Linked DNA regions of Homo sapiens: region 2 is linked to region 1. Evidence: fine-mapped expression QTL. A gene starts in region 1. The other region holds a variant in brackets. All regions are shown on one strand. Distances are between the middles of the regions. Region 1 holds the start of CBX7 (chromobox 7). Region 2 overlaps CBX7 (chromobox 7).

Evidence for each region. PIP is the estimated chance that this variant, and not a neighbour inherited with it, causes the effect.
Region 2: its variant is fine-mapped to the expression of CBX7 in whole blood (TOPMed, PIP 0.91).

What each region holds. Positions count from the first base shown.
Region 1 is chr22:39,149,120-39,165,400 of GRCh38, forward strand. CBX7 (chromobox 7) reads right to left here and starts at 3,561. Exons shown (of 6, transcript NM_175709.5): 1 at 3,257-3,561; 2 at 670-713. The coding sequence starts at 3,325. It also overlaps the pseudogene FUNDC2P4. RefSeq lists enhancers at 1-103, 1-59, 3,139-3,720 and silencers at 3,178-3,227, 3,298-3,867.
Region 2 is chr22:39,115,405-39,131,685 of GRCh38, forward strand. It overlaps CBX7 (chromobox 7), which reads right to left. Exons shown (of 6, transcript NM_175709.5): 6 at 15,368-16,281. It also overlaps the pseudogene COX5BP7. Among named protein-coding and RNA genes, the nearest start is that of APOBEC3H, 26 kb to the left of the region's middle. RefSeq lists enhancers at 2,337-2,436, 2,447-2,596, 16,022-16,281 and a silencer at 13,245-13,294. The variant C/T (reference allele first, on the strand shown) is at 10,548.

The DNA.
Region 1 (16,281 bases):
TCAGATACAGCTCCCTGCCTCCCAACTCCGAGATGGGAGGCTGGGAAGGCACAGAGGAGACACCTGAAAAGGAGAAGGCCTAGTTCAAGTCCCAACTCTGCCTCCACTTGCTGTGTGACCTAAGGCAAGCTGCTTACCCTCTCTGAGCCTGTTTCCTCACCTTGAGAGCGCCTGATCACACCTACCTTACAAAGCTGTATGGGAACCTGCTCTATAGACTGGAAAGTGCCGTCTAGAGGTGAGGGGGATTCAGGCTCTGCCCCTGGCCACACAGCACTGAGGACTCATGCAGCACTGTGCTTAAAGCAGCTGGGGTCCCCTCCTCCTGTCCAGCAGCCATCTCCAGTAGCCCGGATGCTGGGCCTTCACCTCCCAGTTGCCAAGAAAAGCCACAGGGAGGGGAGGAGGGAGAGCAGAAGCTCCAACTAGCAGAGGAGCTCAACACTCAGGAGGGCAGGGTGAGAAGAGAAGCTGGAGACCCACCTTGACCCTCCTGTGGTCCAGGGGGAAACTGAGGCCCAGAGAAGATGATGATTAAATCAAGGTCAGCTGTCCAGTTACAAGAGTAGCTGGAGCTAAAAGCTAGGCAGGGGAGGGGGCAAAAGGCAGGTGGAGGAATGCATGGGTCGGTAGGCAGACAGACAGACACACACACATGAAGGAGCTTACTTTGGGGGCCATCCTTTCCACTTCACCAGATACTCGACTTTACCCTGAGAAGAGAGAGAAGCAGACACAGTGAGTCTCGTGGTTGCCCCTACAGCCACTCGGAAGGACAGTTAAGGCCCAAAGGAGCCCAGCTCCAAATCCCATCTGCAGACAGGTGTCTCCCCAACACACAAACACAATCCGGGGACTGTCCACCAGATCCTCGCCAACCCATATAACCGCGACTGCTGCATGCCCGCCCCATACTGCCCTCCCTAGGACAGCACAGGAGTGCGTCTGGCTCCAGCCACCTCTGAGGCTCCTGAGGCCCAAGCCCAGGGCTCATGTCACACACTGGGAGCTGAGACTGCATGGAGGTGTGCATGCGTGGCCAAAGACCCACAGTGTCTAGAGCCCCAGTGCACAGGTGGGAACGCTTACTTTCTTTTTTAGATTGGAAGAGTCTCCAAATACGAAAACATTCCTCTCTGGGGTAGTCCCCACGCTCCTCCCCCATCTGCTGAGTCCCCTTTCAGTCTGTGAGTGGCTGCCTCTGGCTCAGAGGTAATGGGCCAGTGACTTGAGGACTCTCAACTCAAAAGACCCTGGCAGGACCCCATGGAAGACTGGCAAAGTCTCCACCTTCAGAAGGGGTGGTCAGCCCTGTGGTTGTTAGAAAGTAGAGCCAGGCCCCTCCCTTCCTCACAGGCTTTAAAAGTTTACAGTTACGGTGGCTCAAGCCTGTCATCCCAACACTTTGGAAGGCTGAGGCTGGAAGATCGCTTGAGCCCAGGAAGGAGTTTGAGACAAGCCTGGGCAACACGGTGAGACCCCTGTCTCTGAAAAAAGGAAATTAGTTGGGCATGGTGGCACTTGTCTGTGGTCCCAGCTACACAGGAGGCTGAGGCAGGAGGATCGTTTGAGCCGGGGAGGTTGAGGCTGCAGTGAGCCATGTTCATGCCCCTGCACTGCAGCCTGGGTGACAGAGTGAGATCTTGGTGCCAAGAAAAAAAAAAGTTTACAGTCCAACCCCATTGTGAGTGAAGCCCCTGCACGCCAGAACTTTAAGACCAAAATATGATACCTCCTCACAGAGGCTTTCCCTGGTGACCCTCTCCCATGCTGTCTCCACTGGCACCTTGCAGTTCTATTTCTGCAGAGCACACAGCTCCATCTGAAGGCATCTGTCTGTATCTCCTCATTCACTGTGTGCCGCCTCTGCAGAATGCCAGCTCCCTGAGGGAAGGGGTGGATCCCTGGGGCTTAGACTGGTGCCTGGTACCTGACCAACCCTCAATAAATATTTTGAGTGACTGGCCGAAGGAATGATGATCTCGCCCTCTTGTGCTACCCTGCGGGCTCCATCGTAGAGGGAGTTAGTGCTGTGCCTGCTTCAGGCTACACAGCACGAAAAGCACTGAGCTTTGTGGAATAAATCAATTCTCTTTTAAGTGGAGAAAACCCTAGGAAAAAGGAGAAGGAGGAGGAACAGCTGCCTCAATCAGAAGAGTAAAACCCCAAGCACAGCTGGAGGAAGAAAAGATGCTCCTGACCACCTTGACCTTCACCCTTGGCCCGAGATGCCAGGACTGAGTTTTCTCTATGGAGAAAGAAGATGGGCTGCCAATCAGCCCAGTTGAGCTCCTGCTCTACCTCCCTATCTAACTTGCTCGGTGACCTTGAGCAGGTCACTTCCTCTGCCTGGGCCTCAGTTTTTGTCTCTGTTAAATGGGAGGAGGTGACCCCCTAAGGCCCCTCCCAGTCGGCCTGGAGCCTCCCAAAGGGCTGCAGGGAGGAGGAGACAAAGGAAGGACAGTAGTGCGTACCAGGAAAGGAACTTCTCCCCAAGGATTTCCCCAGCCTTAGGCGAGCCCCCTCGCCAAACAAGTGCACGGGAGGTGTAGACGCCAGGCCCGGACAAAGTCTAGCCCCAAAGTGTGGGGTTCTGAAACCAGCAGAACAGACACCTCCTTAAATTGCAGGGTGTATGTTTTGAAGAAGGCAGATGGGGTAGGAGACTAGGGGATGCCCCAGCGCAGGGGGCGGGCTTCAGAGCCCTGGCCTGGGCTAGGAGTTGAGGTGGGGGTGGGGGCGGGGAATAGGGATGTGCTCGGGTGGCGTAGAGGGGGCAGGATCGGAAAAGGCCAAAGTCCAGCAGGAAAAACTTCAGAGGCCGGAGGAGACTTTTCCAAAGCTCCACTTACAACTTGAAAGGATTTGGTGCCAAGCGTCCAGAGTCCCGAGTTCAAAACCCAGCTCTGACCATAACGCGCTAGGCAAGTCCTTTCAACTTGGGCCTCAGTCTCCCCATATTTACAATAAAAGGGGAGCGAGGTGGGATGGCGCTGAGGATCCCTACGTCCGATCCTAATCTCCAGCTCAGGCAGGCTCGGCCGCCACTAGCATCCTGGAGCGACAACTTTTGTTCTACTCGCCCTACACGGTGGCAGGGAAACTGAGGCACGGGCTGGGGAGACGGGCCCAGCAGCGCAGGGCTGCCGGGGCCCCCGCGCCCCGCTTTCCCCTTCAGCCCCAGCGTGGAGGGAGCGGTGCTGGGGACGGGAGGGACCCCACTGGGGTCCTGGGAGCCGCCCCCGGGCAGCCTCACCTTCCGCACGCGCTTCTTCCGGATGCTCTCCACGGCGAACACCTGCTCGCCGATGGCTGACAGCTCCATGCGGGGCGGCGGGCGAGCGGGCCCGGGGCCGGGCCGGGCCGGGGGCGGAGCTGCGGGGCCGCGGCTGCGGCGCGCGATGCTGGGGCTGGCGGGGTCCCCGTCACCCTCGTCCGGGCGCGCACGCGCACGCGCACGCGCGCACACCCCCTCGCGCTCCCTCACGCCGCCGACGTTCCATTTTTGAACCTGCGCAACGTTTTCCTCGGCGCCAGCGAGCGAGCGCGCGCAAGGAGGGGGCGGGGCGGGAGCGCGCGGAACGGCCGCGGGCTCGGCTCGCGCCCTGAGGGTCAGCTCCGCCCCCGAGCCCCGCCCCCATCGGAACCCCGCCCCCGGGGCCCGCCCCCGCGGGTTGCGATTGGGCCGCGGGCCGCGAGCCGCGAGCGCTGCCGTGGGACTTATTTGGCTCGGTCACCGGCTGGGGCGGGGCGGAGGCTCGCGCGCCCCGTCTTGCTGTGACGCCGGGGCGGGACGTGATCCTTAATACCCAGGCGGGCGCCTCATAGCCTCCCGGTGACTGCCAGGGGCCGAAGTGGCAGGGCCCAGTGGAGCCGACGACAAAGTCAAGGCTCAGAGCGGGGAGGCCATTTGCTCACCTCCCGCAGCGGAGGAGACTGGGCCCGAGGCGCAGCCCCTCGAGTTGCAGGAGAGCCGGGACCCAAAAGGCTTCCCACCGTGTCCGGACGTCGCAGGGCCGAGGTCTCCCTAATCCGGCCTTCTCCGCGGCGCAGTTTGGCCAGTGTCTCCACGTCCGTCCACCCACCCCTCCATCCGCCCTTCCATTTGTCCATCCACCCGACCCTCGGTGGTCGGTGCCCAGACGCACGGGTCAGACGCGGGCGCTGCCTCGAGGGCTCCCGGGCCGGGCCCTCGTTCGCGGCAGGAGCGGCCGCGGTGGAGCTGAGGTCCCCCGGGGACGGATTTTGCCGCCGCGCTGCCCCAGCCTTCCCCAAACCCGCGTGTACTGGGCGCTAGGTGCTTAGTGGGGGCTCAACCATTTGTGGCACGAGACGAACTCTTGATTCCCCACCCCCCTTCCTTTTTCGCTAACGCGCCTCCATTCCTCACTGGGAGCCCGGCGTCGTCCCTGCTCCTTCCTGTACTGACCCCAACTTCTGTCGCTCCGGCATCCCCTCGGGGACTCGGGTCTGCCTGCCCTCACCGCACCCACCTCCCAGGTTCGCCCCGTCTTTTCTCTGGACCACAGCAGAGACCTCGCGGAGCTGCCCTCCCTCCGATCTCAGCCACACAGTGCCAGAGTGTGCTTCTAAAATGCAGATCTGACGGGGTCACCCTGTGCTTAAAAATTTTCCTCCCTATTTCCCTCACAATAAAATCCAACACCTCTTTCTGGCACATAGAAAAAGAGAATAATAGATTCACACCTGACTTTTCATCAAGAGCAACAAAGCCAGAGAGAAAATAACCATCATCTTAGAATTATATATTCAGTGAAAATGTATTTCAAGAATTATGTACCCAGTATGAGGCACATGTATCCAGAACGTAGGTGAAATCATAGCACTTACAAATACAAAAACTTAAGAGTTTGCCACTGGTAGACCCTCCGGAGGGAGATTCCAAAGCTGGAACTTCAGGCAGGAAAAAGATGATCCCAGACGGAGGTCTGATGCAACTGGGAATAAAGAAAAATGAAGAACAGCGATAGTGTGAAACAATAACAATGACTTCTGGATAAAAACAGATTTAAAATACACAACAGTGATGGCATTTACTTGGGTGAATGGAGTTAAAGTGTTCTAAGATCCTTATATTCTTCAGGAGGAAGGTGAAGATAGATACCAAATACACTTTGACGAATTTAAGAATCCAGATTGTCATTACTGGGATAAACACTGTAGGACTGGAAATACTGTGTATAGTTATCCAAATTATTGGAGGAGGAAAAAGAATGATTAAACCAACCCAAACAACTGTAAAGCAGGCAAGAATGGAGAGAAAAATAAATACAAGACGGGGCAGGGAGGGGACAAATAGACGATAGCTATAAATTCGAATATTTTGTGATTCAATAAATGCAACTAAATATTGCAGTTAAAATACAAAGATTATCAGAATGCATAAATAGCTAGATGCAGTTTACAAGAGAAACCCACAAGAGACACTTCCAAAACATAAAGCTAGTGATGGTCAAAAGTAAACACATGGGGGGAAAATACCACGCAAATGCTAACGAAAAGAAGGCTGGTGCAGTTATTTTAATATCGAGGGAAAAACATCACTAGAGATAAATAAGGTCATTTCATAATGAAAAGTGTCCAATTCACCAGAAAAATAGAACAATTTCACATTTGTATGCAAATCATCTTAAAATATAAGAAACATGAAGAAGACAGCTAGATGGAGAGATAGACAAATCCACAATTATAGTGGGAGATCTTAACACTCACCCCTCCATAAGTGGTAGGAGAAGAAGAAAAATATTCAATAGTATATAGGAGATTTGAACACAATTAATAAACTTAACTAATGGACTTCATAGCACACTGTTATCTACCATGGTAAAATACTCCCCTTTACAAGACATGGAATACTTACAAAAACAGTTCATTTCAATAAATTTCAAAAGTCAGAAATAACAGAATACATTCTCTGACCACAACACATATAAGCTAGAGATGAATAATAAAAAGTTCACTTCAAAAGCCCCATATGTTTGGAAAGTAAGAAGTATGGGTTTTTTTGTTTTTGTTTTTCATTATATTTATTTATTTATTTTGAGACAGAGTTTTGCTCTTTCACCCAGGCTGAAGTGAAGTGGCACGATCTTGGCTCACTACAACCTCTGCCTCCCAGGTTCCCAAGTAGCTGGGATTATAGGCACCCGCCACCACCCCCAGCTAATTTTTGTCTTTTTAGTAGAGGTGGGGTTTCACCATGTTGGCCAGGTTGGTCTCGAACTCCTGACCTCAGGTGATTCAACCATCTTGGCCTCCCAAAATGCTACAATTACAGGCATGAGCCACGGAAGAGGTACGTTTTTATGTTAACTAGCGGTTCAAAAAAAAGAAATTGTAATGGAAATTATAAAATATTTTTAACTGCTCTTCCGCTGTCGCCGTGGGAATGGAAATCTGTCCCTCGTGCTGGAAGCCAACCAGTGGTGATGACTCTGTGTGCCACTCCGCCTCCTACAGCGCGGATCCTCTGCGTGTGTCCTCGCAAGACAAGCTCGATGAAATGGCCGAGTCCAGTCAAGCAAACTTTGAGGGAAATTTTGAGTCGCTGGACCTTGTGGAATTTGCTAAGAAACAGCCATGGTGGTGTAAGCTGTTCAGGCAGGAATCTGGACCTTCCCCGAAAAGTGAAGGGTGGCAACCCAGCCGTTCATTGGGGGTGTCACTGAATGGTGCACGGGTTTCATATCCCAGAAGGTTGGAAAGTTGGCTGTAACAGTTGTGGGAGGTGTTTTGTTTTTTTCTCCTTCAGCTTGCAAATCATACTGGGTACATCAAAGTTGACTGGCAACGAGTGGAGAAAGATATAAAGAAAGCCAAAGAGCTGCTGAAGATCCCTTAAGAGCAATCAGATACCTACCAAGGTCAGGAGCAAAGCTGAGGAGGTGGTGTCGTTTGTGAAGAATGTTCTAGTGACTGGGGGATTTTTCGGAGGCTTTCTGTTTGGCATGGCATCCTAAGGAAGATGACCTTATTTTCATTGTTCTTGTTTTTTTTCCATCCAGCAGTCTCTACACTCCATCATAGGACATCAAGTCTCTCCTCTTCTCCTGTGCCTTCCTCCCTGCTGTAGCAAATCCGAGTGGCTTCTATAAGCATCTCTTGGTACAAGTTAATGTGGCCCTTGGCCAAGTGCGGTGGCTCATGCCTGTAATCCTAGCAATTTGGGAGGCCGAGGCGGGTGGATTGCCGGAGCTTAGGAGTTTGAGACCAGCCTAGGCAATATGATGAAACCCCATCTCTACTAAAATACAAAAAAAAAAAAAATTAGCCAGACGTGGTGGCAGGCACCTATAATCCCAGCTACTTGGGAGACTGAGGCAGGAGAGTTGCTTGAACCCGGGAGGCGGAGGTTGCAGTGAGCTGAGATCGCGCCACTGCACTCCAGCCTGGGTGACAGAGTGAGACTCCGTCTCCAAAAAAAAAAAAAAAGTTAATGTGGCCCTACCATGAGCTTGATGGTGGCAGAAGAGGCAATAGTTGTTAGGTCTCCTCCCATACACCCCGTATGTGGCCAATCTGTAGGTCAGCAAGAAGGTTCCTTTTCCCCCATGCAAGACACTTACCAGATCACATTGCAAGATGACTCGCCATGGAGGATGAGCAGACCCTGAAAGGTTGTCTCAAACTGTTGATTTGGAAAAGAAATAAGCACATAGATAAACTTATTGTGTGCTGCATGGAAAGGAACTGAATACATTTGCCTTTAAGCATGAAAAAAATATTTTTAACTGAATGACAATAGAAATATTACATAGTAAAAATGTTGGGCTATGGCTAGTGCGCTTCTTAGAGGGAAGTTTATTGCCTTTTGTGCTTATATTAGTAAAGAGAAAAGGCTGAGAGTAATGAACAAGCGCTCGTTTCAAGAAGCTAGAAAAAGAGCAGCAGAATAAACCAAAGAAAATGAAAGGAAGGCAAGAGTAAAGGTACAGGAGAAAATAGGCCAGGCACAGTGGCTCACGCCTGTAATCCCAACACTTTCGGAGGCCAAGGCAGACGTATCACCTGAGGTCAGAAGTTTAAGACCAGCCTGGGCAACATGGCAAAATTCCATCTCTACTAAAAATATAAAAATGAGCAGGCTTGGTGGCTCGTGCCTGTACTCCCAGCTAGTCAGGAGGCTGAGGCAGGAGAATTGCTTGAACCCTGGAGGCGGAGGTTGCAGTGAGCCTATATCATGCCACTGCACTCCAGCCTGGGCAACAGAGTGAGACTCCATCTCAAAAAAAAAAAAAAAAAAAAAGAAAGAAAGAAAAAAGAAGAAGAAGAAATGGTAAAGAGAAAATAATGAAATGGGATCAGCAAAACCAAACATTATTTCTGTGAAAAGACTAATGGCATGGACGACTCCTGTTGAAATTGATCAAGAAAAAAGAGAGAAAACACAATTAACTAATATCAGTAATTAAAAGTTACAGAACCTGTAGACATTTTAAAAAGGAAAATAAAAGAGGATATTATGAATAGTCTCATTACAATAGCGTAAAAATTTGAATGAAAGGGGCAAGTTCCTAGGAAAATATGCCTTACCAAAATGGTCGCAAGATGAAGAGAAAACCCGAATGAGTACCATCCCTAGTCATAGTACCAAATTATGAAATACTTTCATAGCCAGTTACTGACCATTTGAAACACTTTCCAGCCTTCACATGGAGCAGGGTCCAGAAGGCTGTCCAGGCAGTAATTCCGTGATTTATGTGACATCAGAAGGTCTGGGGGATCTGGGGCATCCCTGGAAGAGTCATTGCACTTAGGAGGTTGATCGTAGCGGCTACATACCAATTGGTATGAAATTATTTTGGAATTTGAGCAACCTGAAGTCCTATGGCACCAGCTGGACATCAGACCTCCCCATAATGATTAAAGGAAGGAAACCGGTAATGCTTCCACAAAGAAAGCTCAGACCCAGAAGACTTCACCTATAAGCTCTTGAAAGAACTCATTCCAATGCTACCCCCAACTTTTCCACATAATAGAAAAAGAGAGACTGCTTCCCAATTCTTCATATGGCAAGTACAGCACAAGAGAAAATTACAGGCCAATGTCACTTATGAATATAGATACCAAAATCCTAAATAAAACAGCAAATCAAATTGAGCAGTATGTAAAAATGATACTACATAGTGGTAAAATTGGGTCTAATCCAGAAATGCAAGGTTGGTTTAACATTTGAAAACCAGTCAATATAATTTGCCTCATTAAAAAATGAAAGGAGAATTAGCCAGGCATGGTGGCGGGTGCCTATAATCCCAGCTGCTCCGGAGGCTGAGGCAGGAGAATCGCTTGAACCCGGGAGGTGGATGTTGGAGTGAGCCAAGGTCGTGTCGTTGTACTCCAGCCTGGGCAACTAGAGCAAACTCCACTCAAAAAAAAAAAAAAAAAATTAAAGGAGGAAGACATGTGATCATCTCAGTATATGCAGAAATAGTTCAACATCTGTTTGTTTTAAAACTTGTAGCAAACTATCAACACAAGGGAATGTCTTTATCCTGGTAGAGGGCTCTATAAAAAACCTACAGCAAATATCTTAATGAATGTTGAAATGTGGAAAACATCCCCTTGAGATCAGTTACAAGGCAAGATTGGATGAATCCCCATTTCTGCTAAACATCACACTGGATATCCTGAATCTGTTGCCCACTGTGGTGGCCATTGGCCAAATGTGACTGTCAAGCATTTGAAATGTGACTAGTTCGAACTCAGACAGAAGAATAAAATTAGATACAGGCCAGATTTCAAAGATTTAGTACCCAAAACATGTAAAATGCCTCATTAATAAGTTGATATTTATTTAATATGGAAATGATAATATTTTGATACATTAGGTTAAACAAAAAATTCATCTTTTTTTTTTTTTTGAGACGGAGTTTTACTCTTCTTGCCCAGGCTGGAGTGCAATGGCGTGATCTCAGGTCACTGCAACCTCCGCCTCCCAGGTTCAAGCGATTCTCCTGCCTCAGCCTCCTGAGTAGCTGGGATTGCAGGCATGCACCACCATGCCTAGCTAATTTTGTATTTTTAGAAGAGATGGGGTTTTGCCATGTTGGTCAGGCTGGTCTCGAACTGCTGACCTCAGGTGATCCGCTCGCCTTGGCCTCCCAAAGTGTTGGGATTATAGGCGTGAGCCACCGCGCCTGGCCTATAAATTAATTTTTAATGAAGATTTTAGAAAATTTTAAATTACAGTTGATCCTTGAACAACACAGGTATGAACTATGTGGGTCCACTTATTCATGAGTCTTCTTCCACCTCTGGGAGGTGGCAAGACAGCAAGACCCACCCCTCCTTTTCCTCCTCCTCCTCAGCCTACAAAGCATGAAGAGATGAAGACCTTTATGATGATCCACTTCCACTTAATGAAGAGTAAATATATTTTCTCTTCCTTATGATTTTCTTAATAACATTTTCTTTTGTCTGGCTTACTTTATGGTAAGAATACAATATATAATGCATGTAGCATATAAAATATGCGTTCATTGACTGTTTATGTTATAGGTAAGGCTTCCAATCAACAGTAGATTATTAGTAGTTAAGTTTTGGGAGAGTCAAAAGTTATATGAGGCCAGGTGCAGTGGCTCACTCATGTAATGCCAGCACTTTGAGAGGCCAAGGTAGGTGAATCACCTTAGGTCAGGAGCTTAAGACCACCCTGGTCAACATGGTGAAACCCCATCTCTACTGAAAATACAAAAATTAGCCAGGTGTGGTGGTGGGCACTTGTAATCCCAGCTGCTGGAGAGGCTGAGGCAGGAGAATTGCTTGAACTCAGGAGGCAGAGGTTGTAGTGAGCTGAGATGGCACCACTGCACTCCAGCCTGAGTGACACAGAAAGACGGTCTCAAAAAAAAAAAAAAAAAAAAAAAAAAAAAGACAACAAATGAAAGAAAGGTGAAGTGATTTGAAATAAGACCATCAGCCAGTCGTGGTGGCTCATGCCTGTAATCCCAGCACTTTAGGAGGCCTTCAATAGCTTATAGGTGAAGTCTTCTGGGAGGCTGAGGTGGGCGGATCACAAGGTCAGGAGTTTGAGACCAGCCTGGTCAACATAGTGAAATCCCGTCTCTACTAAAAATACAAAAATTAGTCGGGCGTGGTGGCTTGCACCTGTAGTCCGAGCTATTCGGGAGGCTGAGGCAGGGGAATTGCTTGAACCTGGGAGGCGGAGGTTGCAGTGAGCAAAGATCGCACCAATACACTCCAGCCTGAGCTACAGAGTGAGACTCTGTCTCAAAAAAGAAAGAAAGAAAGAAGACCATCATTATTTTCAGATTTTATGTAGAAAATTTTAAAAATCTTCAGAATATTTATTATAATTAATAAGAAAATTTAGCAAATTGTTGGATAAAATATCAACAGACAAAAACCTATTGTGTTTTGTGTTTCCATATGCCAGTAATAATTAGAAAATGAAGTAAAATATTATTTATATTATAATAAAAATATGTAAGATATCTGGGAATAAATCTAATGAAAATATGCAAGGCCCTTATGGAATAAAATCATAAAATTATATTGCAAGACATTAAAGAAGATCTAAATTTATTTTTTTGGCCGGGCACGGTGGCTCACACCTGTGATCCCAGCACTTTGGGAGGCCAAGGCGGGAGGATCACTTGAGGTCAGGATTTCGAGACCAGCCTGGCCAACATGGCAAAACTCCATCTCTGCTAAAAATACAAAATTTAGTCAGGCATGGTGGCATGTAGCTATCTATGATCCCAGCTATTCTAGAAGCTAAGGTAGGAGGATCGCTTGAGCCTGGGAGGTTCAGGCTCCACTGCACTCCAGCCTGGGTGACAGAGCGAGACTGTTTAAAACAAAAAACAAACAAAAAAAAACAACAACAAGACATAAAGCTATAGCAAATAAAACAATGTCCTATTGTTCAAGACTAGACAAATAGAAAAAAAGGAATGACAATGAGAGCTTAGTCAAAGAGAGAAGGAGAGAGAGAGAATAAAATTGCAGTCACTGGGTAAAGGATACACTTTTCAATAAATGGTGATAGTTATTCATACAGGAAATTAGACCATTAGACCTCCTGCCTGGCAAAAATTGACTCCATCTGACTTCAAATCCTAAATGTGAAAGACAAAATTCTGAAACTTTTAGAAGATGATATTTTAAAATATCTTTATCTTTATGATCATGAAGTAGGGAATCGTTTCTTAAACAAGAAACCAGGAACATAATTCATATAGGAAACAATTGATAACTTAGACTCCATTAAAACTATGAGCTTTCTTTATGAAAATACATATAAAGTCAGCCAGCGACTTGAAAAGCTGAGGCAGGAGAACCGCTTGAACCTGTGGGGTGGAGGTTGCAGTGAGCTGAGATCGTGCCACTGCACTCCAGCCTGGGTGACAGAGTGAGACCCTGTCTTAAAAAAACAAGGCCAGGAGCGGTGGCTCATGCCTATAATCTCAGCACTTTGGGAGGCTGAGGTGTGTGGATCACCTGAGTTCAGGAGTTCGAGACCCGCCTGGCCAGACTGGCCAACATGGTGAAACCCCGTTTCTACTAAAAATACAAAAAATTACCGGCCGTGGTGGTGGGTGCCTGTAATCCCAGGTACTCAGAAGAATCGCTTGAACCTGGGAGGCGGAGGTTGCAGTGAGCCGAGATTGCACCACTGTACTCCAGCCTGGGCAACAAGAGTGAAATTCCATTTCCAAACCAACAAACAACAAAACAAAAAGAGCCAGGCGCGGTGGCTCACACCTGTAATCCCAGCACTTTGGGAGGCTGAGGCGGGCAGATCACCTGAGGTCAGGAGTTCAAACCAGCCTGGCCAACATGACAAAACTCCATCTCTACTAAAAACTACAAAAATTAGCCAGGCGTGGTGGCAGGCACCTGTAATTCTAGCTGCACGGGAGGCTGAGGCAGGGTTGAACCCAGGAGGCAGAGGTTGTAGTGAGCTGAGGTGGCACCACTGCACTCCAGTCTGGGCGACAACGTGAGACTCCGTCTCAAAAAAAAAAAGAAAAGAAAAGAAGAAAATATATATAAAGTGAACAGAAAAGAAAAATATTTAAAACACTCATAAATGGACAAAGGAGGTGATGTAAAGAGTTCCTGTGAATCAAGTGGGAAGATGGACAATCAGTTGTAGCAAAATACAGGAGTGCAGAATGTGGCAAAGACTTGGACAGGCAAAGAGAGGAATCACCAGTGGCCAACAGTTGTGAAAAGTTGTTCAAGCTCATGAGTAACGCAAATAAAATCCCACAATGAGATACGACTGATTAACAAAAATGTTAAAGTCCGTTTTAAAAATTATTGCAAGCAGGCTAGGTGTGGTGGCTCACGCCTGTAAACCCAATACTCTGGGAGGCTGAGGTGGGAGGATTGCTTGAGCCCAGGAGTTCGAGATCAGCTTGTGCAATATAGCAAGACCCTTGTCTCTACAAAAAAATCAGAAATTAGCCAGGTGTGGTGGTGCATGCCTGTACTCTGAGCTACTCAGGAGGCTGAGGTGGGAGGATCACTTGAGCCCAGGAGTTCAAGGCTGCAGTGAGATATGATCACGCCACTGCACTCCAGCCTGGGTGACAGCGAGAGACCGTTAAAAAAAAAATCTTGCAAGCACTGGCAAGAATGTGGAACAATTCTTCTTCTTCTTCTTTTTAGACAGTCTCACTCTGTCACCCAGGCTGGAGTGCAGTAGTGTGATCTCGGCTTACTGCAACCTCCACTTCCCGGGTTCAAGTGATTCTCCTGTCTCAGCCTCCCGAGTAGCTGGGATTACAGGCATCTGCCACCACACCTGGTTAATTTTTTTGTATTTTTAGTAGAGATGGGGTTTTGCCATGTGGGCCAGGCTGGTCTCGAGCTCCCGACCTCAGGTGATCCACCTGCCTCGGCCTCCCAAAGTACTAGGATTACAGGCGTGAGCGACCGCACCCGGCCTAATTTTTGTATTTTTAGTAGAGATGGGGTTTTACTATGTTGGTTAGGCTGGTCTCAAATTCCTGACCTCGTGATCCACCCACCTTGGCCTCTCAAAGTGCTGGGATTACAGGCATGAGCCACTGTGCCTGGCCTATGTATGGTAACTTTAACTTTTTTTTTTTTTTTTTTTTTGAGATGGAGTCTTGCTCTTGTTGCCCAGGCTGGAGGGCAGTGGCGTGATCTTGGCTCACTGAAACCTCCGCCTCCTGGGCTCAAGCAGTTCTCCTGCCTCAGCCTCCCAAGTAGCTGGGATTACAGGCACGCACCACCACGCCCAGCTAATTTTTGTATTTGTAGTAGAGGCAGTGTTTCTCCATGTTGGTCAGGCTGGTCTTGAACCCCTGACCTCAGGTGATCTACCCGCCTCGGCCTCCCAAAGTGCTGGGATTACAGGTGTGAGCCATGGCACCTGGCCATGTATAGTAACTTTTAAAGAAAATTCCAAACTGTTTTCTAATGTAGCTGTGCTATTTTGCATTTCCACCAACACTATTTGAGAGTTCCAGTTGCTCCACATCCTCACCAACTCTTGATATTGTCAATCTTCAATTTTAGCTATTTATTGCCCATATACTGACTGAATGTAGAGAATTTGCATTTCTCTAATGGCTAATGATGTTGAGGACCCTTTCAAGTAGTTATTTGCCATTCATATATCCTCTTTGGTGAAATGCGTTTTCAAATATTTTGCCCATTTTAAAAATCAGATCATCTTCTTAGTCTTGAGTTACAAGAATTTTTGGCCAGTCATGGTGGCTCACACCTGTAATCCCAGCACATTGGGAGGCCGAGTCAGGCAGATACTTGAGGTTAGGAGTTTGAGACCAGCCTGACCAACATGGTGAAACCCCGTCTCAACTAAAAATACAAAAATTAGCCGGGCATGGTGGTGTGTGCCTGTAATCCCAGCTACTTGAGAGGCTGAGACATGAGAATCACTTGAACCCAGGAGGCAGAGGTTGTAGTGAGCTAAGATGGCACCACTGCACTCCAGCCTGGGCAAACGGAGCAAGACTCTGTCTCAAAAAAAAAAAAAAAAAAAAAAAAAAAGATTTCTTTATATAAATATTTTCACCAAGACTGGTTTGCCTTTTAATTTTTTTCTTTCTTTTTTCTTTTCCTTTCTTTCTTTTTTTTTGAGCTAGGGCCTCACCCTGTCACCCATGCTGGAGTGCCATGGCATGATCATGGCTGACTGTACCCTTGACCTCCCAGGCTCAAGTAATTCTCCCACCCCAGCCTCCTAAGTAGCTGGGACTATAGATGCACACCACCATGCCCGGCTAATTTTTGCATTTTTTTTGTAGAGATAGGGTTTGGCACTATTGCTCAGGCTGGTCTCGAACTCTTGAACTCAAGCAATCCACCTGCCTTGGCCTCTCACAGTGCTGGGATTATAGGCATGAGCCGCTGCATCTGGCCACCTTTTAATTTTTTAAATGATGTCTTTTGAAGAACAAAAGCTCTCACATTGCAGAATAGGATCCATTTTGGGTTAATTTTATATATGATGTGGGGTGAGGGTCAAGGTTCATTTTTTTCTCCATAAGGTTAATCGATTGTTCCAGCACCTTTTGTTAGAAAGACTGTACTTCTCCTTACTGAATTGCCTTAACACATTTATCAAAAGTCAGTTGCTTTTATGTGCATGGATTAAATTCTGAACTCTCAATTCTGTTCCTTGATCACTTGGGCTCAAGTGATCCTTCTCCCTCAGCCTCCTGCGTAGCTGGGACCACAGGTGTGTGCCACCATGCCTGGCTAATTAAAAAAAAAAAAAATTGTAGCAATGGGGTCTCACTATGTTGCTCAGGCTGGTCTCCAACTACAGGCCTCAAACGATCCTCTCACCTTGGTCGCCTAAAGTGTTGGGATTACAGGCATCAGTCACCATGCCCAGCCCTATATTAAGTCTTAAAATCAGGTAGTCTAAGTCTTGTAACTTTGTTCTTTTTTTTTTTTTTTTTTTTTTTTGGCTTTTCTAGATCCTTTGCCCTTTCATATAAAGGGCAAAGGGCACATTGTCAATTTCTACCAAAAAGAAAAAAGACTACTGATATTTTTATTGGGATTATTTTGCATCTATAGATCAATTTGGAAATAATTTACATCTTAACAATATTGAATTTTCCAACCCATGAAAACATTCTATCTCTTCATTATTTAGGTTCTGTTTAGTTTCTATAAGCAATGTTCTACAGTTTGGGGGTACAACTGCAGTTTCACATCTTCACCAGGTTATCCCTAAGTGTTTCATGGCCATTGTTAAGTGGTGTTTCTAATTTTCTATTTTAATTGTTC
Region 2 (16,281 bases), 34 kb before region 1:
GGGTTAGGAGTTCAAGACCAGCCTGGTCAACACGGGGAAACTCCATCTCTACCAAAAATAGAAAAAAAAAAAATTAGCTGGGTGTGGTGGTGTGTGCCTGTAATCCCAGCTACTCATGAGGCTGAGGCAGGAGAATCGCTCGAATCCAGAAGGCGGAGGTTGCAGTGAGCAGATATCATGCCACTGCATTCCAGCCTGGAGGACAGAATGAAACTCAGTCTCAAAATAATAATAATAATAGAAGACCGCTTTGCAGGGCTGCTTCTGTTTGCAGGAGCAGCCATCTCAAAATATATCAGAGAAGGATATTTTGATTACCTTTACTAGCCTTTCAGGTCTCAGAAGCAGATAGATGATGATGGATAGATGGATGGATAGATGAATGGATGGATGGATAGATAGATAGGTAGATATGAGGACTAAGCTCTGCTTTTTTTTTTTTTTTAATCTTGCCCAAATTCCTATCTAAGGGGTCTGGGGAGTCATGCCCTATAAACCATAAATTCTCATCAGATGAGTTTTATTTAACCCTCTGTTTCATGACTTACTTTCCAATATGATCGCTGAAGGGGTTCACCTTGCCCACTGCCTAGACAGAGCTGATTTATATCAAGACACAGCAATTGCAATAGAGAAAGAGTAATTCACGCAGAGCAGGCTGTGCAGGAGACTGGAATTTTATTATTACTCAAATCAGTCTCACGGAAAACTTGGGGATCAGAGGTGGTTTTTTGTTTTTTGGTTTTTGGTTTTTTCTAGAAGGAGACTTGCTGTCATCCAGACTGGAGTGTTACCGGTGGTGACAGTCTAGCACCTTTTAAAGGTCTGATAGGAAACATTTGTCATCTCTTGTCTCTAAGGGCAGCCACTATGAGACTTCAAAAGAGACTTGGTCTTCACAGTCTTTTATTTTATTTTATTTTATTTATTTTTGAGACACAGTCTAGTTTTGTCACCCAGGCTAGAGTGCAGTGGACCTCTGCTCACTGCAACCTCCCGCCTCCTGGGTTTGAGAGATTCTCCTGCCTCAGCCTCCCGAGTGGCTGGGATTACAGGCGTGCCACCATGCCTGGCTGATTTTTATATTTTTAGTAGAGATGGGGTTTCGCTGTATTGGTCAGGCTGGTCTCAAACTCCTGACCTCAGGTGATCCATCCGCCTCGGCCTCCCAAAGTGCTAGGATTACAGGTGTGAGCCACTGTGCCCAGCCACAATCTTTTATCTTAACCTCAACATTTTCTTTCTGTTGATCCCAGGTCTTTAGACAAACTAAACCGACTGTCAAGCAGAAAATGTTTAAATTTACCTATAGCCTGGAAGCCCCCTGACTTCGAATTGTCCTGCCTTTCTGGACCAAACCAATATATGTCTCGAATGTATTTGATTGATGTCTCATGCCTTCTTAAATATATATAAAACCAAGTTGCACCCCAGCCACCTTGGGCACATGTTCTCAGGACCTCCTGAAGGCTGTGTCATGGGCCATGCTTACTCATATTTGGCTCAGAATAAATCTATTCAAATATTTTATAGAGTTTGACTCTTTTCGTTGACAGATAGACAGACAGATACTGGCATAGGAATAGACAGGCAAATCTAAGACTTTTAATCTCTCTCTTTTTTTTTTTTTTTTTTTGAGATAGCATCTCACTCTGTCACCCAGGCTAGAGTGCAGTGGCGCGATCTCGGCTCACTGCAACCTCCGCCTCCCGGATTCAAGTGATTCTCCTGCCTCAGCCTCCCGAGTAGCTGGGATTACATGCGCTCGCCACCATGCCCAGCTAATTTTTGTATTTTTAGTAGAAACGGGGTTTCACCATGTTGGCCAGGCTGGTCTAGAACTCCTGACTTGAGGTGATCTACCTGCCTCAGCCTCCCACAGTGCTGGGATTACAGACGTGAGCCATCATGCCCGGCCTTGATCTCTTAATTAAAACATCAATTTGCTGGAATAACAGGATGTATTTTTCTTTTATCATGCAGGACGGAGATGAGTAAAATCTCAGTAATCCTCTTCAGGGTTGACACAGCCCCCTTTTTTAAGTATTTAAGTGCTTAAGGAATATACAAAGATGTTGATTACAACATTATTACCAGGAAATATGGCTATCAATTAGAACCGAAGGCTTCTTCTCAAAGGTTAAGACTATTTTCATATTGAGGTAGTTCAGCAGGGCTGGTTTCACAAGTTACAGATCACAAGGACCCCCTGATAAAACAGGATGCGGTAAAGAGGCCCGGACCAAACCTGCCAAAACCTCTGATCATCCTCACCGCTCATTATATGCTAATTAAAATTAATTCTTGTGCTAAAAGACGCTACCGCTACCACCAGTGACTTGACAGTTTTACAAATGCCATGGCAACATCTATACATTACCCTGTATGGTCCGAAACGGGAAAGAGTCCTCAGTTCGGGGAATCCCCCACCCGCTGCCCAGAAAATTCATGAGTAATTGAATGAATAACTGTTGATAACCTTCAAGTCATGTTCAACAGTAAGCAGGCTTCCAAAGCAATCCACCTTGGGAGCTGTAACCCAGCCTATGCTATAACAACCATAAGATGTTGGTTACTTATTTTCTTCTCTGTTCTTTTCTTCCTCCACATGTGGTCATTGAAGTAGAGGGTGTTCACCAATTCACTAGTAATTGATTAACGTCACATTCTGCCCCCTGGAGGCTGCCTGCAAGATTCATGAACTTGTTTTGCTTCTGAAGAATGAAGATCCTGAGGTCATGCGACCTCCTTGGCGATGTCCAGAAGTTTGATTGACGAAGGGACGCAAACAGCTTTGATCATGGGGGAATCTCACCTCCCGCCCTACCCACCTTACAAAGGAAGGTCAGATTCGAGAGTTTGGGTCTCCCATCCTCAGGCCGTGGCCAAATTGAATAAACCTTTCTCTGCTCCTAAGCGCCCACATGTCAGTGCTTGGCTTACAGCGTGTCAGGTACTCAAACCTACCCTTTGGGGTTCTGCAACAGTCTTTTGACTCGATGGTAACATTGCGTCTCCAACTAAAGAATCTTATCATAAATTTCTCAAATGATTGATGTACTGATCAGTGTGTAACCTGCAGACACTAAATAGGACACTGATTTCTTTTAAGGTGAGCTGAAGTCTGAAGTTCGACTGATTGTCTTGTGTGTAGGCATTCTTATCCTGTATGATGTCATCTGTACCCCATGATGGTGATGGTAACCTCTGTGTTGTACCCTCTAAGGAAAGGAGTCCCCCTCCATTGTTTTTTGTTGTTGTTGTTGTTGTTTTTGAGATATATTTTTGCTCATGACACCCAGGCTGTGGTACTGTGGCACAATCTCGGCTCACCGCAACCTCCACCTCCTGGGTTCAAGCGATTTTCCTGCCTCAGCCTCCCAAGTAGCTGGGATTACAGGCATGCACCACCATGCCTGGCTAATTTTTTTTTTTTTTTTTTTGTATTTTTAGTAGCGACAGGGTTTCACCATGTTGGTCAAGTTGGTCTCAAACTCCTGACCTCAGGTGATCCACCCACCTCGGCCTCCCAAATTGTTGGGATTACAGGCATGAGCCACTGCGCCCAGCTCCCCCTTCCTTCTTTTAAACTTTCCTAAAAAAAACCTTGTGACAGACTCTGAAATACCCCCAACCTTGTTGGTGTGTCTTCCTGGGTCGATCATCACATTTGGCTTCCAATAAACCTTTATCAAATTATTTCTGCCTCAATAGCCTTAATTTCGGTGGACACTCTGGACTGCTTAATAAATGGTGCTGGCACAACTGGCTATCCATCTGGAAGAAAATTGAGTCCTTTTTCATACCATATGCAAAAATAAATTCCAGATGGCTCAGAGCTTCAATGTAAAAAATTAAAATCTTAGAAAAAAATCCAGAAGACATGTACAAAACAGAAATTAGGAAAATCCTTATAATTAAAAGAGAGAATCCAGAGACCTTCAACAAAAATATAGATCTATTTGATTACATAAAATCTAAAATGTCTGTATGGGAAAAGATACAAATAGACAACTAGGCCAGGCATGGTGGCTCACACCTGTAATCCTAACACTTTAGGAAGCCAAGGCAGGCGGATCGCTTGAGGTCAGGAGTTTCAGACCAGCCTGGTCAACATGGTGATACCCCATCTCTACTAAAAATACAAAAATTAGCCAGGTGTGGTGGCGTGTGCCTGTAATCCCAGCTACTCGGGAAGCTGAAGCAGGAGAATCACTTGAACCCGGGAGGCAGAGGTTGCAATGAGCCAAGACTATCCCACTACACTCCAGCTTGGGCAACTCTGTCTCAAAAAAAAAAAAAAAAAATCTGCATGTGACTTTTTTTTTTTTTAAATAGTTAGGGTCTCACTATGTTGGCCAGGCTGGTCTAGAACTCCTGGGCTCAAATAATCCTCCTGCCTCGCCCTCCCAAAGATGTGGGATTACAGGCATAAGCCACCATGCCTGGCCTTTTTTCTTTTCTTTCTTTCTTTCTTTCTTTCTTTTTTTTTTTTTTTGAGAAGGAATTTCACTCTTGTTGCCCAGGTTGAAGTGCAATGGTGCGATCTCTGCTCACCACAACCTCTGCCTCCTGGGTTCAAGCGATTCTCCTGCCTCAGCCTCCTGAGTATCTGGGATTACAGGCATGCGCCACCAAGCCCGGCTAATTTTGTATTTTTAGCAGAGACGGGGTTTCTCCATGTTGGTCAGGCTGGTCTCAAACTCCTGACCTCAGGTGATCCACTCACCTCGCCTTCCCAAAGTGCTGGGATTACAGGCATGAGCCACCGCGCCCGGCCCTTTCTTCTTTTTTTTTTAATGGGAGAAGGAGCCAATGCAATGGCTACTCTTTATTGGAAAGAAGAAACTTTGCAGCACATTTTGGGTAACTTGGTGCAGGTGCTCAGTACGTCAGCTGGCGGGGCACCAGCTTGTAATGGGTTCCATAGCTGGGGCATCACTGGGTCTCGCCTTTGTGCAGCCCAAAGCAGGTGATGGTACTGTTGTCCTCTACGCAGATGCAGCCCACTCTTCTCTTGTTGGTGATGGAGAGGACTAAATTAGGGTCTTCTTTGGTGCCTGAAGCTGCCTTTAGGGGTAGTATATTATATGGGTCCGGTCCCTTCCTTGCAGCCATGATGACCTCCCTCTCCAACGCAGTTGCCTGCTTGTCATCAGTAGTGCGATGCTGTTTGCAGGGTAAATAAATTGGAAATAAAGTGAATTCCCACTGGTGGATGAATGTGTAATTTATGGTACATTCACACCATTGACTAGTATGCAGCCAAAATTTCTACAAGAAATTATTGAGAAAAGGGACAGAATGATGTGTATAATCATGTGTGATGGTTAATACTAAGAGTCAACTTGATGGGATTGAAGGATGTAAAGTACTGATCCTGGGTGTGTCTGTAAGGGTGCTGCCAAAGGAGATTAACATTTGAGTCAGTGGGCTGGGAAAGGCAGACCCACCTTTAATCTGGGTGGGCACCATTTAATCAGCTGCCAGTGAGGCCAGAATATAAAGCAGGCAGAATAACGTGAAAAGTCCAGACTGGCTTAGCCTCTTAGCCTACATCTTTCTCTCATGCTGGATGCTTCCTGCCCTCGAACATCAGACTCCAAGTTCTTCAGCTTTGGGACTTGGACTGGCTTTCTTACTCTTTAGCTTGCAGATGGACTATTGTGGGACCTTGTGATTGTGTGAGTTAATACTCCTTAATAAACTCCCCTTTAGATAGATAGATAGATAGATAGATAGATAGATAGATCTTATTAGATAGATAGATAGATCGACAGATAGATAGATAGATCCTATTAGTTCTGGCCCTCTAGAGAATCCTAATACATCACGTGATGTTGTTTTTATAAAACAATGAAAAAACCTACATATGCTCATGCACAAGTACCTATGTTCCTTTGAAATTCTATGATCATGGAGAATATTTCTTGTATTCCAAGATCATTTACATGAGTTATCTGAAGAGCCGTGTGAAGTGGGAGAGAAGAAACAAGGGATGTGGGGAGCAGGGAGCAGTAAACCAAAAAGAAGGCCGGGCAAGGTGGCTCACATGTATAATCCCAGCACTTTGGGAGGCTGAGGCGGGTGGAGGTCAGGAGTTTGAGACCAGTCTGGCCAAGATGGTGAAACCCTATCTCTACTAAAAATACAAAAATTAGCCGGGTGTGGTGGTGCACGCCTGTAATCCCAGCTACTCAGGAGGCTGAGGCAGGAGAATTGCTTGAACCCGGGTGGTGGAGGTTGCAGTGAGCCAAGATGGCACCACTGCACTCCAGCCTGGGTGACAGAGTGAGACTCCGTCTCAAAAAAAAGAAAAGAAAGAAAGAAAGGAAGAAAGAAAAAAGCCAAAATGAAATAAACTGCATTCAAAAAAAGAAATTATACACAATATATTTTCATTTGTTCATTTAAGTGAGAGAGAGAAAGAGATTGTGTGTGTGTGTGTGTGCGTGTGTGTAATATAGAGAAATTCTTAGTGGTCAGTAAAACAACAACATATTTAGGTAGGATGATGTAAAAAGTCAAGTCAGAGGTATTTATATACTTAGAAATGCTTTTCTGCTCTGCCACCAAAAATAATAATAACTAAGAAGAAGAATCAATTTTAGGCTGGGCACAGTGGCTCACGCCTGTAATCCCAGCACTTTGGGAGGTAGAGGTTGGAGGATCGCTTGAGGCCAGGAGTTTGAGACCAGCCTGAGCAACATGGAGAGACCGCAGCTCTATTTTGTAAAAGTTAAAAATAAATAAATAAATATAAAGAATAAATTTCAGGGGCCCTCTAGTGGCTGCACATCATTTTCCTCCACTCTGACAGGTACCCCAGTAGCACCTCTATGACAAAAAGAAACTTAGTCCCGGATGCCACAAATAAACATTGTTATCATGATTTAAAGAGACACGGCCTGACGATGAAAGGTCTCCGTTTAAATCTCCTTGGTTTGTGCAACTCTGTAAAGAATCAATCATTAGATTGCTCAGATCCCGCCATCTCGATCAATCTGAAATACTGTATTTGTGTGTGTCTGGCCTGCTAGTTAAGATGTCTGGAGTGTTCAAAAGAATCAGTCTAGATTTATAATACTAGATTTATAATTAATCAAATTAATAATGTTTAAATGCTTAAGGAAAATTGATTTTCAGAGTTATATTACTTGAATAAATTGAGCAATAAAGTACCAATGTTAATGAGTATTCCTCTCCATACACAAAAATATCTTGAATAAAGCAACTATTAAAAAATCTGTTTTATTACTTAAAATTTTTTTTTTTTTTTTGAGACGGAGTCTCACTCTGTCGCCCAGGCTGGAGTGCAGTGGCGCCATCTCGGCTCACTGCAAGCTCGGCCTCCCGGGTTCACACCATTCTCCTGCCTCAGCCTCCTGAGTAGCTGGGACTATAGGCACCCGCCACCACGCCTGGCTAATTTTTTGTATTTTTAGTAGAGACAGGGTTTCACCGTGTTAGCCAGGATTGGTCTTGATCTCCTGACCTCGTGATCCGCCCACCTCGGCCTCCCAAAGTGCTGGGCTAACAGGCGTGAGCCACAGCGCCCGGCCATTTTTACTTAAAATTAAGATCACCTGCAAGTAACTGAAGCCTCAAAGCCAGAGGCCAAAACCAGACAGAAGCAGGCCTTCTGAGGATGGCCATGCATTTGTTCACCTTACAACCCCAGGTGAACCGGACATGCACAGTGTCAGCTGGATGATCAGACAGACAGGGGAAAAGTGAGCCCCCAAATGGACAGGTGAGAGGCATAGGCTCTTCCTCTCTGGCAAAGTGCTCTCCCTCCAGCAAGGCAGGGACGATGGCCTGCACTCCCGCTGGCCTGACTGCCCTGGCCTGGCCATCAACCGGAACCTGGCCCTCCTTCTCCAGAGGAGACCTCCCCGCATCCCCCCAGCCACATGGCTTCCTTGAAAGATTCCCACCCCCTGTCTGTGGTGGGCAGGGACCCAAATCCCACCACACCCTCCCAAAGTCAGAATGGACCCGGTGAGGCCAGGCGAGATGGCTCACACCTGTAATCCCAGCACTTGGGAGGCTGAAGCGGGCAGATCGCTTGAGCTCAGGAGTTTGAGACCAGCCCGGGCAACATGGTGAATCCCCATCTCTACCAAAAATACAAAAAACTAGCCAGCGTGGTGGTGGGCACCTGTAGTCCCAGCTACTTGGGAGGCTGACGTGGGAGGATCACCTGAGCCCAGGAGCTCAAGGCCGCAGTGAGCGCAAATGGTACCACTGCACTCCAGCAGGGGCAACCAGAGTAATATTCTGCCTCAATAAATAAATAAATTAATTAATAAGAACGGATCCAGTGAGGTGAGAAAGCACCGAAGCCACTGGAGGAGGCCAGCAGAGGAGCACAAGGAGGAAGGAGGCAGGGGGTGCAGGGGCAGGCGGGGCTCAGAGCCATCGGATTCCATCTAAAAGGCAGGGCCCAAAGGTGCAGTCAAGAGGAGGACAGGGAGGTCCTGGGGGTCCGGGGGTGGGGCAGCTTCTTCCCCGCTTTCCCATGGGATTTATTTTCAGGACAGCTGGGCAATTTGGGGAGCCGGGAAGGCTGCACCTGCCCCACCCCAGGCCAGCCGGGCGGCCTCCCTCCCCTGCTCCACCTTCTTGGGGTGCTGCTCTTCCTCTCCCTCTCCCTCTCATGGCACCCGGCCCTTGGGGCCTGCTTCCTCTGTGCCTCCTCCCTCTCAGGACAGTGGAAGAGGCGTCCGCCTTCCCCTGACCCCAGCGACCGCCGTCCCCTCCTCTCCCCTAGTGCCTGCATTCCTTCCTCTTTCCTTCTGCAGCTTTTCTCTCTTGCCCCCTCCCCTCCAGCTTCACAGGAACTTTCCCGCGCCTGCTTTCCTTCGTGCTGTATGGCTTTTCTTTCCAGGAGGCATCCGGACTGAACAGTGAAGCGGCCAGGGATGGGGGGGTGCGGAGGGGGTCGGGGAGGGGGGCGGGGGAGGGCAGTGAAGCTGGGAGGTGGACGGTGAAGCGTGGGGGACTGTGAAGCGGGGCGCTGACAGGGGATCTCCACGCAATGAGCTCTCCCGGGGCACCGGCCAGAAGCCACGCCTTCCAGGAATGGACCACGGACCGGCCTCAGATGGCTAGCTGTGGCCACCTGCCCAGGCGAGCTACAGGGAAGAAGACGGTGGCTTCCAAGTGTGCCCCCAGCCTTTTCAGGGCCTGTAAGGTCCACGGTTCTCATCATCATGTTTAAGATGTTGTCTTCCCGCTCTCATGTTCTCACAACGAACTGCGGAATTTTCCAGAGGCTGCATGCCATGCAATACTGCAACAGGTTTTTACGCAGGAGATATGATAATCCACCTAACTATTAAGCCAAACAAAAAAGAGGCAACGGGGCGTGGGGGGGACACGGCGGGGAGTAAAGCAACGCCAACTCTCCTCACTGAATCTTTCTGTTTTGGAAAATATATTTTTCATAAAATGTGTTACTTATGTTAATAGGTAATGGCTTCAGGCCCAGTGCGGTGGCTCACATCTGTAATCCCAGCACTTTGGGAGGCTCAGGTGGATCACCTGAGGTCGGGAGTTTGAGACCAGCCTGGCCAACATGGCGAAACCCCATCTCTACTAAAAACACAAAAATTAGCTGGGTGTGGTGGTGGGCACCTGTATTCCCAGCTACTCGGGAGGCTGAGGCAGGAGAATGGCTTGAATCCAGGAGGCAGAGTTTGCAGCCGAGATCACGCCACCGCACTCCAGCCTGGGCAACAGAGCAAGGCTGTCTCCAAAAAAAAAACAAAACAAAAACCATATATATATATATATATATATATATATATATATATATATATATATATATATATGAGAAATTTAAAAATATCTAATTCATTAAAAAATAATGAAGCCATTACTTTTTTTTTTTTTTTTTTTTTTGGAGAGAGTCTCGATCTTGTCGCCCAGGCTGGAGTGCAGTGGTGGGATCTCGGCTCACTGCAACCTCCACCTCCTGGGTTCAAGTGAATCTCCTGGCTCAGCCTCCCAAGTAGCTGGGATTACAGGCGCCTGCCACCACGCCTGGCTAATTTTTGTATTTTTAGTAGACATGGGGTTTCACCATGTTGGTCAGGCTGGTCTCAAACTCTTGACCTCAGGTGATCCACCTGCCTCGGCCTCCCAAAGTGATGGGATTACAGGCGTGAGCCACTGCACCTGGCCTCTAATATGATAAATATTGATAGCTATAACCCACATACACAAAAGCTCTCTGGGGTTCTTAACAGTTTTTAAGAATGTATATGGATTCAGCAACCAAAAAGTTTGAGAACTGCTGTAGAAGGATTAGTCATGAGGTGTCTGGTGCCAGATACAGGTTCAAGTCTCTGCTCTGCTACGTCCTAGCCATGTAGCCTTGAGTAACTAACCGCAGCCTCTCTAACCACTTGTCTCCACTCACAGAAACAGGTGCAACAATAGTACCTACCTCAGAGAGTCGTTGTCAGCATGCAGGTAACAACATACACAAGAGCTATACTGAGCACGTGTACCAGGGCAATTCTGAGACTTTTCTTGTTTTT[C/T]GTTTTTTCCTTTGAGACAGGATCTCACTCTGTCACCTGGGCTGGAGTGCAATGGCATGATCATAGCTCACTACAGTCATGACCTCCTGGACTCAAGCAATCCTCCTGCTTCAGCCTCCCATGTAGCTGGGACTAGAGGTGCCACCACACCCAGCTAATTTTTTCTCATTTTTCATAGAGACGGGGTCTCGCTATGTTGCCCAGGCTGCTTTCCAACTCCAGGCCTTAAGTGATCCACCTGCTTTGGCCTCCCAAAGTGCTGGGATTACAGGCTTGAGCCACCACACCCAGCCATGACATGTTCTTGGGGATTCAGAACTTGGGTTAAGGCTTAAAGCTAAAGACAAAGCATGCTGAGTGCCCCACTTTTTATTTTATTTTATTTTATTTATTTATTTTTTGAGACAGAGTCTCGTTCTGTTACCCAGGTTGGAGTACAGTGTCAAAATCTCGGCTCACTGCAAGCTCCGCCTCACAGGCTCAAGTGATTCTCCTGCCTCAGCCTCCCAAGTAGCTGGGATTACAGGTGCACGCCACTATGCCTGTCTAATTTTTATATTTTTAGTAAAGACGGGGTTTCCCCAAGTTGGCCAGGCTGGTCTCAAACTCCGGACCACAGGTGATCCTCCCGCCTCGGCCTCCCAAAGTGCTGGGATTACAGGCATGAGCCACTGCGCCCGGCCCTGAGTGCTCCACTTCCTAAAGGGAGCCACCAAGGAGTTGCCAGCAATCGACTAGAGCCAGACTCTACCCCCAGTGCAGGAAACTAGGACGAGGCAGAATCAGCCCTCATGTTACCACCTATGAGCATACACATGTGCGTGCATGCGTGCGCACACACATACACGAGCGTGCTATAGGAAAACAGCAAGAGTGACGCCACCTTGAAGCGTAACCGCCAGGAGGACTGGTGTCTGACCCTTGCATAACAATGTGTCCTGCAGCAAGGTCTTTAAACAATGCCCATCGCACAGATGACCCCTCGTAAAGATGCTTATCCAGCCTCCCCAGTGCTCATGAGTCTTGACAACAAAGTCTGAAGACATGACCAGCTACACGTTTCACCCTAAAAGCTTGCTATATAAAGAACACTTTCTGGAGGGCGGCTACGGGGATCTGCCATCTCTCAGCTGCCGGAGACACGGCCTCTGTTCTTAAGTCCCCATTAAATGTTTCTTTCTCAGAAACTGGATTTGTCAGCCTCTGTCTTTGGTCTCTTGCCTCCCTTGGTCTTGGGGGCAGGCATGCATAAATCTACCCACCACCAAACACAGGCACATCGCCTTCTTCCTCCTCTGACCCTTCCCCCACCCGTGGCTTTATCTACCACTATGTGCCCAGGCCCCAGCATCTGCATCCCAGCAAGTGTGGGGTAGCACTGAGGATGGTGGAGTCTGGGTGAGTGGCGCATGAGGGTCTTTATATTGCTGCCTCTACTTCTGCATGTTTGAATTTTTTCATAATAAAAAGTTTAGGCCAGGCACAGTGGCTCACGCCTGTAATCCCAGAACTTTGGGAGGCCAAGGTGGGTGGATCATGAGGTCAGGAGTTCAAGACCAGTCTGGCCAAGATGGTGAAACCATCTCTCTACTAAAAATACAAAAATTAGCCGGGCGTGGTGGCATGCGCCTGTAATCCCAGCTACTAGGGAGGCTCAGGCAGAGAATTGCTTGAACCTGGGAGGCAGAGGTTGCAGTGAGCCAAGATCGTGCCACTGCACTCCAGCCTGGGCAACAGAGCAAGACTCTGTCTCAAAAAAAACAGGGTGGGCGCAGTGGTCACACCTGTATTCCCAGCACTTTGGGAGGCTGAGGCGGGTGGATCACGACGTCTGAAGTTAGAGACTAGCCTGACCAACATGGTAAAACCCCGTCTCTACTAAAAATACAGGCATGGTGGTGCGTGCCTGTAATTCCAGCTACTCAGGAGGCTGAGGCGGGAGAATCGCTTGAACCTGGAAGGCAGAGGTTGTAGTGAGCCGAGATCACGCCATTGCACTTCAGCCTGGATGACAGAGGGAGATTCCGTCTCAAAAAAAAAAAAAAAAAAAGGCTGGGCACAGTGGCTTGTGCCTGTAATCCCAGCACTTTGGGAGTCCCAGGCGGGTGGATCACGAGGTCAGGAGATTGAGGCCATCCTGGCTAACATGGTGAAATCCCGTCCCTACTAAAAAAGATACAAAAAATTAGCTGGGTGTGGTGGCAGGCACCTGTAGTCCCAGCTACTCAGGAGGCTGAGGCAGGAGAATGGCATGAACCCGGGAGGTGGAGTTGCAGTGAGCTGAAATCGTGCCACTGCACGATTCTACCAAATGTGTTTTTCTCCCCTAAGCTTCAGAACTGTTTGTGAACTGCTTGTGGGACCACTCTACCTCAACACCTGTATCATGGACTGAATGTCTGTGTGTGTGTCCACCCTCTCATCACCCACCGCAAATTCTTATGTTGAAGCCTTAGGCCCCAGTGTGACGTTATTTGGAGGTGGGGCCTTTGAGAGGTCTTTAGATTTACTTGAGGCCATGAGGGTGGGGCCCCCATGATGGTATTAGCATTCTTAGAAGAAAAGAAAGAGACATCAAAGCATCCTCTCTCTGCCAGGTAAAGACACAGTGAGAAGGTGACCCTCGCCAGATACTGTATCTGCCGGCATCTTGGTCTTGGACTTCCCGGCCCCCAGAACTGTGAGAAATGAATATCTGTGTTCTGGTGTATGACACTGTGTTAGAGCTGCCTGTACTGCCAACCCACACACACTCTGAACTCAGTGAAACCAGCCCGGCCACGCCTTCCTCTGCCAGGTGTTTCCACTTGCTCAGCTCTCACCCTGCCATCCTCATCTCTGCCTTTAGCCATGGCCAGGGTCCAGTCTTCACTTTCTGCCTAGTGGGTAATTTGGATGCCAGGTGGGGGTGCCTTGGCCTCTGCATGGACCCAGCTGAGAAGTGCACGAAGTCAACACGCCAGAGCAGCTTCAGTAATGGGATGGGAAGGATGGGAGAGTGGCTATAGATTCCTATCCCCAGTTGGACGGACAATTTCGGGAGGCGTTTCGAACCCTTCCCCGAAAGTCCAGGTGGAATCAAACTCCTGTTCCCACAGCACCCACCTCAATAATGTGCCCTTACCCTGGCTTTCCCTCCTCCCCTGGCCCTGTCTCCACTCTTGCTTCCTAGAACCCCCTCCCAAATAAACTACCTGCACCCAAGTCCCTGCCTTAGACTCTGTTCTCATGGACGCTGCATCAGCTTGCTACGGCTGCCATAATAAGCTCCCACAGACCAGGAAGCTTAAACAACAGAAATGTATCCTTTCACAGTTGTGGAGGCTGAAGTCCAGGATCAAAGGTCAGCAGGGTTGGTTCCTTCTGAGCTTGGAGAGAAGGCTCTGATGTAGGCCTCTCTTCCTGGCTTATGGATGGCATCTCTGTCTTCACACAGTCATCTCACAGCATGTGTTTGTGTCCAATATCCCCCTCCCCCCCTTTTTTTTTTTTTCGAGATGGAGTCTCCAGGCTGGAGTGCAGTGGCGATCTTGGCTCACTGCAACCTCCACCTCTTGGGTTCAAGAGATTCTCCTGCCTCAGCCTCCAGAGTAGCTGTGATTATAGGTGCCCGGCTAATTTTTGCATTTTTAGTAGAGACAGGGTTTCACCATATAGGTCAGGCTGGTCTCAAACTCCTGACCTCAGGTGATCCGCTCACCTCAGCCTCCCCAAGTGCTGGGATTATAGGCATGAGCCATTGTGCCAGGTCCCAGGCATATTCTTGATCCCTCACTTTCATCAATTCAGTGGCCACATCTTGACGCTTCCACCACCTAAACCTATCCCCAGTCTATCTGTTTCTCTTTCACTGACATGTCCACAGTTGCGGCCACCATCCCCTTCCACCTGCATGGCTACAACAGACTGTTTAACTCTTCTCCCCACCATCAGCCCTGCCTGCTCCAGCCTAGCCTCTGTCCTGCAGCCCATGATGCACTGAAATGCAGACGTGCTCCCAGGACTTGCCCTTGGCTCTGACCACCTGTCTCAACGTTCAGATGTGTGTGCTAAGCTTGGCTGAACACACAGTAGGTGAGCGTTAGCCCCATGACAGTCCTGCGATCCGGAATCTGCCGTTGCAGAGACCTGCGATGCTCACCCCTCCAAGGTTCTGGAATAAAGGACTCTTGGGGAGAAGCAGATAAAAGGTGCCAGAAGCACTTCCAGGCCTCTGATGACACACTACGGACCATGGTGATGGCCTCACCCAGAGACACCCGCAGTTTCCTGTTCCCGTCACCTCAGTGAATTCTCTGTCCATCTGGGGTCTCAGCGAAGGGAAAGACTTGTCCGAGATTATGGCCGGTGACCAGCAGACCTGGGACCTAAACCCCAGGCATTGCCAGGGGCTGAAGCTCTTTCTTCAGCACAGTGGGGACACCACTGTCTGGCCTCTGAGCTGCAGCTCAGCCATTGTAACCCCTGTGACCTGCACATATACATCCAGATGGCCTGCAGGTCCATTATGGCTTGTTCCTGCCCTGCCCCAACTGATCGACCTGGTGACCTTCTTCCGGACAATGAGTATTATGATCTCCCCAACAGGCACCTTGTGACCCCCTCCCCTGCTGACAATAGCTAACCACCTTTCACTGTAACTTTCCACTGCTTACCCCAGTCCTATAAAACTGCCCCACCCCTATCTCCCTTGGCTGACTCTTTTTGGACTCAGCCCACTTGCACCCAAGTGAAATAAACAGCCTTGTTGCTCGCACAAAGTCTGTTGGTGGACGGATGCACTTGACAACCACCAGAAGGAATAATCAAATGCCCAGGAATTTTCTTTTTTTTAAATCATCTTTAATGTATTTTTAATAATTTTTTTGCCTCATTTACCAGATAAATCATCTAAATAAATAGATGCTATACAGTCTCTTACCAATGTCAGTACAAAAATAAAACCGCGCTCTACATCCACTCTGACTCTCCCAGCACACACACACTCAGCAAAGGCATGTGCTTGGAATCAACTCGTGCCCCCGACCCCTCCCAGATACATTCATTTAGTCTGAACAAAGCTCGAAGCTCATTCTGTGCAAAGGAAGCGCTCTTGTGCTGAGACCTGGTGGCCGCAGCTGGCCACTTCGAAAGCAAAAGCTAAACCACCTCACAGAAGCACAGCGCCTGCCCCCAGAACAAGGGGACAGGAGGAGCTTGGCAACGAGGTCATCACCCGAACAGCAGTGACAGTCCTGCATTCCAGGCGGCTGTGCCAGGGGTGGGGGTACCTCCTCCGCACCCCCCACCACAAAAGGAAAAGTGCCCACGGGTCTCTACATTCAAAGCGGGTGGGGGCTGGGGGAAAGAAAGGCAGATGGGCAAATGCTTTCTAAACCCTCCCCCCACCCCCAAGAGTACTGGCCTTTTAAGAGGGCTGCGGGGGTGGAGGTCACTGTCTGCCTTGCTCTACTGGGCCACTCTGGGCTGGAAGGAGGCCTGCACGGCCACAGCCGTAGGTGACCTCATAGAGGTCACCTGTCCTGGAGGATGGTCCTAACGGCCCACAGCCTTTTCCCCCAGGGAGCTGGCTCACTACAGCCCATGAGCCACCTGGCTGCCCTGAGCTGGGCACCTCAGGCCCACCCGTCCCAGGTCACACCCCTGGAGTTCAGCTCTCCCTGAGCCACGGAGTTCCCCATGGGCCATAAAGGGCTGAGTAAGAGGAAAGATGTGTCCTGCTGCTGCAGACAAA